2 separate regions of the Homo sapiens genome follow, and region 2 is linked to region 1. Evidence: fine-mapped QTL for protein levels in blood plasma. A gene starts in region 1. The other region holds a variant in brackets. All regions are shown on one strand. Distances are between the middles of the regions. Region 1 holds the start of GLT8D2 (glycosyltransferase 8 domain containing 2). Region 2 overlaps GLT8D2 (glycosyltransferase 8 domain containing 2).

Evidence for each region. PIP is the chance, under the fine-mapping model, that this variant and not a neighbour inherited with it causes the effect. The UK Biobank Pharma Proteomics Project read protein levels with antibody pairs (Olink). The fine-mapping took linkage between variants from a reference panel, not from the people measured, so its PIPs are less certain.
Region 2: its variant is fine-mapped to the plasma level of the GLT8D2 protein (UK Biobank, PIP above 0.99). The variant lies in the coding sequence of GLT8D2. If it changes the protein, the assay may bind it differently, which can mimic a change of level.

Annotation. Positions count from the first base shown.
Region 1 is chr12:104,048,190-104,053,189 of GRCh38, forward strand. GLT8D2 (glycosyltransferase 8 domain containing 2) reads right to left here and starts at 1,998. Exons shown (of 11, transcript NM_001384711.1): 1 at 1,706-1,998.
Region 2 is chr12:104,012,799-104,017,798 of GRCh38, forward strand. It overlaps GLT8D2 (glycosyltransferase 8 domain containing 2), which reads right to left. Exons shown (of 11, transcript NM_001384711.1): 4 at 2,215-2,307. Among named protein-coding and RNA genes, the nearest start is that of GLT8D2, 35 kb to the right of the region's middle. RefSeq lists a silencer at 1,569-1,791. The variant T/C (reference allele first, on the strand shown) is at 2,256.

The DNA.
Region 1 (5,000 bases):
CCAAAAGAGGAACCAAAATGAAAACAAGTGTGTCCAGAATAGCACACCGCAGAGTGTGCTCCTAGAAATGTTAACCTACATTATGTGATAAGGTGGTTCAGCGATCAACTGTTTGGGAATCATTGCGTTAAACAACCTTAAGAGGATTTCTCTACTACAGGACTTCTCAGGACCTTTAAAATGCTATTATGCCTTGCGATCTCTAAGAGGGTAATATAGTTCACAGAGTTTCCCATGGGACTATGTTTTCTCAGAACTTTCTTTGGAAAATGCTGAAATTAAAAAGGATTTAGAATCATTTTCCTCGGGAACTAGAAATGAAAACTATGAGGGCTGTGCCTTAATGAACCTCACATTTTCTCAGCAAGGAAAGAGGAAGCACAAAGAAGAAATAATGAAAGACAGAATGGGAAATAAAAGAAAGAGAGGTGTCTGAAGGAAGAAAGGAAGAAAGCAAAGTGCTGGAGAGATGACATATTAGGGTATGAGGAACACTTGGACCACTGGACTGTCAGAGGGAACCATGGTCAAAAGCAGAGGTGTTGCCAAAAACAGGATGCATGATCACTTTTGTCACCACTGCCATCATCAGCACCATCAGAGAAGCTAACCTTTCCTGAGGCCTAACTACTTTGCAGGTCCTGTATTATGTCCTCTATAGACATTAGGTCATGTAATTTCCATTTTACAGATGAGGAACTAGGGTGCATGCAGTTAAACAATTCACCCGGAGTCGAGCTTAGAAGGTGTGTAAGTGGCAGCATGTAGATTCAGTCCTGTAAGCCTGACCCCAGAGCCTATGTTCTTACCACTGCATTGCACAGTCTACTTCCAAGTGCATTAAAGGGAGAACTGGAATTCCATTATGTAATATAGAAAGGATATTACACAGAAGTGCCACACCAGAACATTTGGAGGAAAAGGAAAAGACAAAAACCAACCAATATCACTTTGGATATTTGGCTGCACAGGGGCCAAACAACGAGAGGACTGATTTTTTTTTTCAAAGCACATCCAGACATTCAGATATCATCATGTTTTCTTTCTCTCACTCTCTCTCAGGTTTTTTTTTTTTTACTCTCATGTTAACTATCCTTCTTATTTCATAAATTATATACCAGGCTTGTCCAATGTGTGACACTTGCTTATAAAGTAAACATAAGATCTTTTTTAATGTTTAAAAAGCATTTTCAACCCAAACACCACGACTACTGTATTTACAATAAGCCTCACTTGGGTTTCCACAACGGCCAGTTCTTTCTGGGGGGATGGAGATCCTCAGAACAGCTTCCTAAGGCAGATTCTGAAAACATGAATCATGCTCAGTTAAATAATTTGTGGCTCAGGACATACCTTCATTAAATAATAGCATTCATCCACATCCTAACTGCTGATTTTTATGTTTAAAATCTGATACAAATAGTAAATTATCATATTTGTGGAGAGAAGGAGGAGAAACCCAGGTCTGGAAAAGCAGCCCAGGATGTGAAAAACATTGCACACTGGATTTGCTGGAAATGGCCGAAAAGGGTTCCGCTGGAATGCTACCAGTTCGGACTGGGAAGTTTCTGAAGGCAAAGTTTGTGTGGGGCAATCTGACACCTCTGATTTACTTTCTTGGGTCTGTAGCAGAATAAAGAACTGCTGCAGACCGGCCAGGATAAAACGGAACGACTGCACACTGCTCGTAAATTTCTCTATTTACCTGGTGAATGGTGAGGGTAGGGCTTTGGGCTCCTCGGTCCAGAAGAGCTGCAAGGCAGAGCGTTCAAATCGTGGCTGGCCCTGGGCTGCCGCCCTCACGCTGCTTCGGCTGCTTCTAAGATCCCATTGGAAGTCCCAAAGGGCTGGAGAGCCCCAAGGCCAATATTACGTTTCCAAAAGAATATTCCTCCCCGACCCGCACTCCCCTTTGCTTGCGTTGACTTCGGAACGTCTCGGGTTTCTTCCACCTCTGCGCGAAGCCGCTGGGAACCCAGGAGTTGCGCTGGCAGAGAGGGGCGGCCCCAGAAACCACTTCCAGATGTGCTCGGCTGGCCGGCTCGGATGCGCCAGACTTCCTCTGGCTAAGTGCAAAACATGCAAAAAACAACGCTGTTCTGGAGGAAAAGACACAAAACCAGAGAAGAGCAAATGCTTTCAGGGTGAATTTCTACCACACGTTGAGTCGAAGGCAAACTTTGAAAGAACACCAGTGAAAAATAAAGTTCATGCTGATTTTGAGAATCTTCATGGCCACTAGCTTCTCCTGAAATCTCCTAGTCATTGAAATGCTGTTGTCCCCAAATCAAAACCCAGGTAACAACTGTGGTCTTCTTCTACCAAGGCAATAATGACAAAAGTTTCAGGATGGAGTGTTTTTGTGCCTGAACAAAAGAGGAATCAGAGAGGAATGAGGCAGGGAGCTGGGAGCTGACCTCAACAGCAATCTGCGCTGTTCTGTATCTCTGCGGTGTGTTCTCAAACCCGGGAGATGGTGCCAGCACTTTGTCTGGGATCACAGAATTTATTTCTGCAATGGCTCCTCTTCCTATTTCCTATAAGGATATAAGGATCTCCCTGCTCACTGTCTCTTTCTAAAGTGGTGCTCTCCAACAGAAATAAAATGCAAGCCACCCTGTAATTTTACTTTTTTTTTTTTTTGAGACGGAGTCTCCCTCTGTCTCCCAGGCTAGAGTGCAGTGATGAGATCTCGGCTCACTGCAACCTCCGCCTCCCCGGTTCAAATGATTCTCCTGCCTCAGCCTCCCGAGTAGCTGGGATTACAGGCGCCCACCACTACACCCAGCTAATTTTTGTATTTTTAGTAGAGATGGGGTTTCGCCATGTTGGCCAGGCTGGTCTCAAACACCTGACCTCAGGTGATCCGCCGCCTCAGCCTCCCAAAGTGCTGGGATTACAGGCGTGAGCCACCTCATCCGGCCAATTTTACTTTTTTTTTTTTTTAAAGAGACAGGGTCTTGCTCTGTTACTCAGGCTGGAGTGCAGTGGCGTGATCACAGCTCACTGCAGCCGTGAACTTCAAGGTTCAGGCGATCCTCCCGTCTCAGCCTCCTGAGTAGCTGAGATTACAGGTGCACATCACTACACCTGGCTATAATTTAAAATTTTCTAGTAGCCACATTAAGAAAAAAGTACAAAGAGGTAAAATTTATCTTAATGATATATTTTACTTTACCCAATATATACAAGATGTTATCATTTCAACACATAATATAAAACATTATTAAGAAGATGTTTTATGTTCTTTGTTTTGTCTTTAAATTTAATTTGTTTTGATACATATTCATGTAATAATTGTACATATTCATGGGGTACATATTGATGTTTCAATATACAATGTATAGTGATCAGAACACTGTAATTAGCATATCTATAATCTCAAATATTGATGCTTATGTTGGAAACATTCAATATCCTCCTTCTAGCTCTTTGAAGCTATATATTATTGTTAACTATGGCCATACTACACTAGAACCTATTCCTCCTATCTAGCTATAATTTTATATCCTTTAACAAATCTCTCCCTATCTCTCCCTTCCTCCTGCCCTTCCCAGTGTTTTTTTTTTAACTAAGTCTTTGAAATTTGGTGTGTGTTGTACACTTGGAGCACATCTCAATTCAAACACTAAATTTAAGCAGAAACACTTCACATATATTTAGATTTTATAAATACCATTTAAAAAGTAGATTCATTTAAGGTAATGGATATCCCAGTTACACTGATTTGATCTTTACAAATTATATGAATGTATTAATATTAAATGTTTGAATACACACTCAAAATATGTATATCTATTATGTTATCAATAAAAAAATAGAAAAAAACACTGGGAACAAAAGTAAATTCACGAGTCCAGGTTGGTCCAAATGTACTTAAAAGTTTTCCAGTAATTGAATAGAGTATCAGTTTTTCAATTAAAATTAGTTACAGTTAAATAAAATTAAAAATTCAGTTCCTCAGTTGCACTAGTCACATTTAAGTACTCAGTAGTCAATGTGGCTAGTGGCTACTATATTGAGCAGTTCCATTCTAAAGGATTTAGTAGGGGTTTTCTTAGATATGAACTTTGAAGGTGGGAGGATCCTGAATATCTTCCATGTATATAGAACTTTGAATATAGCCAAAGCATTTTCATATCTTCTATTTCTTTTTAGCCACACAACATTTCTGGTAGGTAAGTTGAACAGATGTTATTTGCCCCAATTTACAGATGAGCAAACTGAGGCTTTGAGCAAATTAAAGCCCAAGTTCCCAAAGCAAGTTAGCGATGAAGCCAGGATTGGAATTCTTATTCAGCACTTCTTAAGTGTTTCCTTCTTGAGGCATATTTCAAATACTAGGATCTGCGGCTGCAACAGTAGCGTTAAGTGGCATGGCATCCACATTGGTCATCCTTCAGCATCAAATTTGCTGCCTGTGTAGAATTATTGACTGCCCTGTGTTCCCTTATATGCCCCTATTCTAAATCCCTCACACAATCCAGCAGGTGTGTCCTTTCTCCTGGAGAGGCTTGACATGATGCCCCTCCTCTTCTCTCTTTACCCCCAGCATCTTGTACCTTATTTTATGTATTAATTATTATTATTATTATGTAGAGACGTGTCTTGCTATGTTGCCCAGGCTGGACTTGAATTCCTGGGCCTTTCTCCTCAGCCTCCCGAGTAGCTGGGACTGTAGTCATGCACCACCATGCTCAGCAAGTTGTACCTTATTTTAAAGCACAATTCCATTCAAACATTTAGCTAAATGTTTTTAGCTAAAACGTTGGTCACCTCTGGGAAGTCATAAGGTTCAGGGGCAGCACAATATCCTATGCTCTAAATACTCACTGCACACACATGAGCGAAAATAAGAACCACTTCTGGCTCAGGGTTTCCCACCGCCCTTCCAGAATTATGTGCTGTTAACTTGCAGCAGGCTAGTCCCTCAGACATGTCCCAGGCATCATGTGGACAGCAGCCTGAGCTGACACCTGCCCAGTGCAATTTCCTTCACA
Region 2 (5,000 bases), 35 kb before region 1:
AGGCCTTATCCCAGTAAGACTGGTATCCTAATAAAAGGAGGAAAAGAGGAGAATCACACAGAGGGTCACAGCCAGGAATGCAGCACAGAGAAAAGGCCACGTGAGGACACAGCAAGAAGGCGGCCATCTGCATGCCAAGGAGAGAGGCCTCAGGAGAAACAAAACCTGCTCACACCTTGATCCTGGACTTCCAGCCTCCAGAACCAGAGAAAATACATTTCTATGGTCTAGCCACCTAGTCTGTGCTATTTTGTTATGGCAGCCCAAGCAAACGAATACAGATTTTTAAAAATTTACCCATTGTAAGCGTACAGTACAATGATGTTTAGTAAATTTATAGAATTGCACAACCATCACCAAGATCCAATTTTAGAAAGTTCCATTGAGCTGCCTGGTCTGCAGTCAGTCCATTCCCACTCCCAGCTCTAGGCAACCACTGATCTGCTCTGTGTCTCCATAGATTTTCCTTTTCTAGAAATTTCATATAGATGGAATCATACAATATATGGTCTTTCAGGTCTGACTTCTTTTATTTAGCATAGTTTTTTTTCAGGTTCATCCATATTGCAGCTTGTATCAGTCATTTGTTCCTTTTTACTGTCGAAAAGTATTTCATTGTGTGAGATAAATTACATTTTTTGTATCCCTCACGAGTTGATGTACATGTGAATTGTTTCCAGTTTGGGGCTACTATGAATTATACCCTAAGAACATTTGTATATATGTCTTTGTATGAAAATCATTCTCTTTGCAGATTCCATGTTCATTTAGATCAGATTATACATGTTTTTAATTATTTTTAAATGAATTTTTAAATTACAAAATATAATCAGAAAGAAATGCCAGCTTCCTGGGAATAGGGATATTGTTTTGTTCACTGTTGTGTTTCCAGTCCCTAAGTGTCTGACTGAAAAAAAAAACAAAACTGTGGAATAAATGTATGTAACACACCAAATAACTGTATTCAGAGTCTCACTCTGTCATCCAAGCTGGAGTGCAGTGGCACTATCAGGGCTCACTGCTGCTTAGACCTCCTAGGCTCAAGTGATCCTCTCATTCCAGCTCCCAAGTAGCTGGGACTATAGGCATGCCCCACCATGCCCAGGTAATTTTTTGTGTGCATGCAGATGGGGTCTTGCTTTGTTGCCTAGGCTGGGCTGGTCTCAAACACCTGGACTCAAGTGATCCTCCCGCCTCAGCCTCCCAAAGTGCTGGATTACAAGTATGAGCCACCATCGCCAGCCCGTAAGTGTGTATTTGCTTGATTTATATAAAAAGTAAATTAGCTGGGCATGGAGCTCATGCCTGTAATCCCAGCACTTTGGGAGGCCAAGGTAGGAGGACAGCTTGAGCCCAGGAGTTCAAGATGAACCTGAGCAGCATGGCAAAACCCATTTCTACAAAAAATTAGCTGGGCGTGGTGGCACACACCTGTAGTTCCAACTTCCTGGGGTGCTGAGGCCGGAGGATTGCTTGAGCCCTGGAGGTCGAGGCTGCAGGGAGCTGCTATTGTGCCACTGTATTTGAGCTGGGGCAACAGAGTGAGATTCTGTCTCAAAAAAAAAAGTAAATTAATTAAAAATGTAATAAACAGTGCTTCCTGATTTTTATGGAGGTTGACTTTGTGTGTGCATTGGAGTTTTGAAGGTGCCATCTCAGGCAATTCACCCCCGAGGAGGGAAACATGGTTCTCAGTGCAGCTGGGAGAGACCACAGGGCCAATGAAGGGCCATTTTCAAGTTGAGAGTTATGAGGCTGACTTGCACTGATGGGAATGAACCAGCAGGGAGAGGAGAAAGAGGGTGGTTTCCATAAGCAAAGTCATTGAGAAGCTCCAAAGAGATGGAGTGTGGAGCAGTGCACTCACCCTGTGGTCCAAGAACCTACAGCATCAGCCTCAACCAGGAGCTTATCGGAAATGCAAGTCTTGAGGCCCCACACCATACCTACTGATCCTACACCTCACGGGTGGGCCCAGTGCTGTGTTTTAACAAGCTCTCCATGTGACTCTCACACATGCTAAAGTTTGAATAGCACCGACCATCCTAGGGCACGACTGAAAAGGTGGTCTAGGGCGGATATTCTACTAGCAGGTCCTTGGGAGTTGACCAAACTGTCACTTGTCCCTGAACCCAGCTATTGAAAGGACCTAGAGGAACATATTCAAACCACATTCCTGGGTATCCCAACTCAATGAATTCCATGTCTGCTCACCTGCGTCATTCTTGGGCACAGTCCCCTTATGAACTTTCTTA[T/C]ACAGAATCACACAGAGGGTCACGATCAGAAGGAACAGCAGCACCTGATTAACTGAAATAGAAATGGAAACACATTAACATTGAACCTATGAACCTGAAATCACGTGACAAAGTTTAGAATGGTAGTGCGAGTAGGTGCCTTCCATGACACAGAGGAGTGGTATCTGAGACCTTTCTATAAGCAGACAGCATATAGAATAAAGAATTAACCTGGCCAGGTGTGGTAGCTCATGCCTGTAATCCCAGTACTTTGGGAGGCCAAGGCAGGTGGATCACCTGAGCTCAGGAGTTTCGAGACCAGCCTGGGCAACAGAGTGGGACCCTGTCTCAACAACAACAAACACACACACACACACACACACACACACACACACACACACACAAATTAGCTGGGCGTGGTGGCATGCACCTGTAGTCTCAGCTACTAAGGAGGCTGAGATAGGAGGATGGCTTGAGCCTGGGAGGTGGAGGCTGCAGTGAGCCAAAATTACTCCAGCCTGGGTGACAGAGCCAGACCCTGTCTCAAATACAAAAACAAACAAACAGAAAGAATTAACCTGGAACACTATTGTTGCTCAGGGGTCTTGCATCTTTACTGAATTTGTATATCAGTTCTAATAGTTTTTTGCTGGAGTCTTTAGAATTTTCCAAATATAAGATTATATTGGCCAGTTGTAGTGGCTCACACCTGTAATCCCAGCACTTTGGGAGGCTGAGGTGGGCAGATCACATGAGGCCAGGAGTTCAAGGCCAGCCTGGGCAATATGGTGAAACCCTATCTCTACTAAATTATACAAAAATTAGCTGGGCGTGATGGTGCATGCCTGTAATCCCAGCTATTTGGGAGGCTGAGGCATGAGAATTGCTTGAACCTGGGAGGTGGAGGTTGCAGTGAGCCAAGATCACACCACTGGGCAATAGAGCAAGACCTTCCTTCCAAAACAAAACAAAACAAAAACGTATCATCTGCAAACAGGATAATTTGAGTTCTTCCTTTCCAATTTGGATGCCCTTTATTTTTTTTGCTTGTCTGATTGCTCTAGCTAGGGCTTCCACTACTATGTTGAATAACAGTGGTGAAACGCAGCCATCCTTGTCGTGTTCCAGATGTAAGAGGAAAGGCTTTCAGTTTTTCCCCATTTAGTATGATACTAGCTGTGGGTCTGCCGTATGTGGCTTTTATTTTGTTGAATTTATGTGATTCTTCTTATGAGCCAGTAGTAATTATAAATACATGTTCTTAGCCATTATGACACAGCTGCTTTTCAGTTAATTCAACCCTTGGTCAAGGATGATGTGCAGGCCGGGTGTGGTGGCTCACACCTGTAATCCCAGCACTTTGGGAGGCCAAGGCAGGTGGATCACTGGAGGCCAGGAGTTTGAGACCAGCCTGGCCAACATAGCAAAACCCCATCTCTACTAAAAATACAAAAATTAGCCAGGTGTTGCGCATGCCTGTAGTCCCAGCTATTCAGGAGGTTGAGGCAAGAGAATCACTTAAACCTGGGAGGCAGAGGTTGCAGTGAGCCGAGATCATGCCACTGCACTCCAGTCTGGGTGACAAAGGGAGACTCTGTCAAAAAAGAAAGAAGGAGAGAAAGAAAGAAAGAAAGAGAGAGAGAGAGAAAGAAAAGAAAGAAAGAAAGAAAGGGAGAGAGAAAGAAAGAAAGAAAGAAAGAAAGAAAGAAAGAAAGAAAGAAAGAAAGAAAGAAAGAAAGAAAGAAGGAAGGAAGGAAGGAAGGAAGGAAGGAAGGAAAGAAAGAAAGAGAAAGAAAAGAAAGAAAGAAAGAAAGAAAGAAAGAAAGAAAGAAAGAAAGAAAGAAAGAAAGAAAAATAAAGAGAGAAAGAAAGAAAGGAAGAAAGAAAGAAATTCTTGCCCTGGTAAACAGAAGACCTCAATGCCTCCAAGCCTCCAGCTCTGTTTGTTCCAGTGATGTTGGCCCTTGAGATCTGTTGAGAAGTAGAGTGGTGTAAAACAGTGTTTTCTTGAGTATGGAACATATAGCACTGGTTGTGCATGAAATGACTGAGGAAGTTCATGTTCATAGCATTAATATTTAATCAGCATATGAGAAAGTCAATCTTTCTGATTTTATGTGCAGGAACACAACAAAAGCTACCCAGAGTTGAATCACATTCTCCTAATTGTATATGTGTTTAAAGCTACCTTTTTTTTTTAATGATAGGAAATCATTCTGTTTTCATTTGCAGTAAGGATAAAAACTTTCTATTATGAAGTACACTTATAAATTTTTAAAATTAGTCAAAGAAAACAAAATTGGTTTTGAGATGGAGTTTCACTCTTGTTGTCCAGGCTGGAGTGCAATGGCACAGCCTTGGCTCACTGCAACCTCTGCCTCCTGGATTCAAGCGATTCTCCTGCCTCAGCCTCCCGAGTAGCTGGGATTACAGGCCCCCACCACCATGCCTGGCTAATTTTTGTATTTTTAGTAGAGACAGGGTTTCACCATGTTGGCCAGGCTGATCTTGAACTTCTGACCACAAGTGATCCTCCCACCTTGGTCTCCCAAAGTGCTGGAATTACAGGCATGAGCCACTGTGCCTGGCCTAAAGAAAATATTAAGAAATGTTTAGGACAGAAGGAACACAGCTGATGAAAAATTGAGAAGATGGCATGTTGGCATGTGTAGTGCACACCTACCTAAAGTTTGGGAAAAGTTGGTAGAAGGGAAGAGGGTGTGAATTTGAAGTCAGACTCAAATCTCTTTTCTACCACCTCCTAGC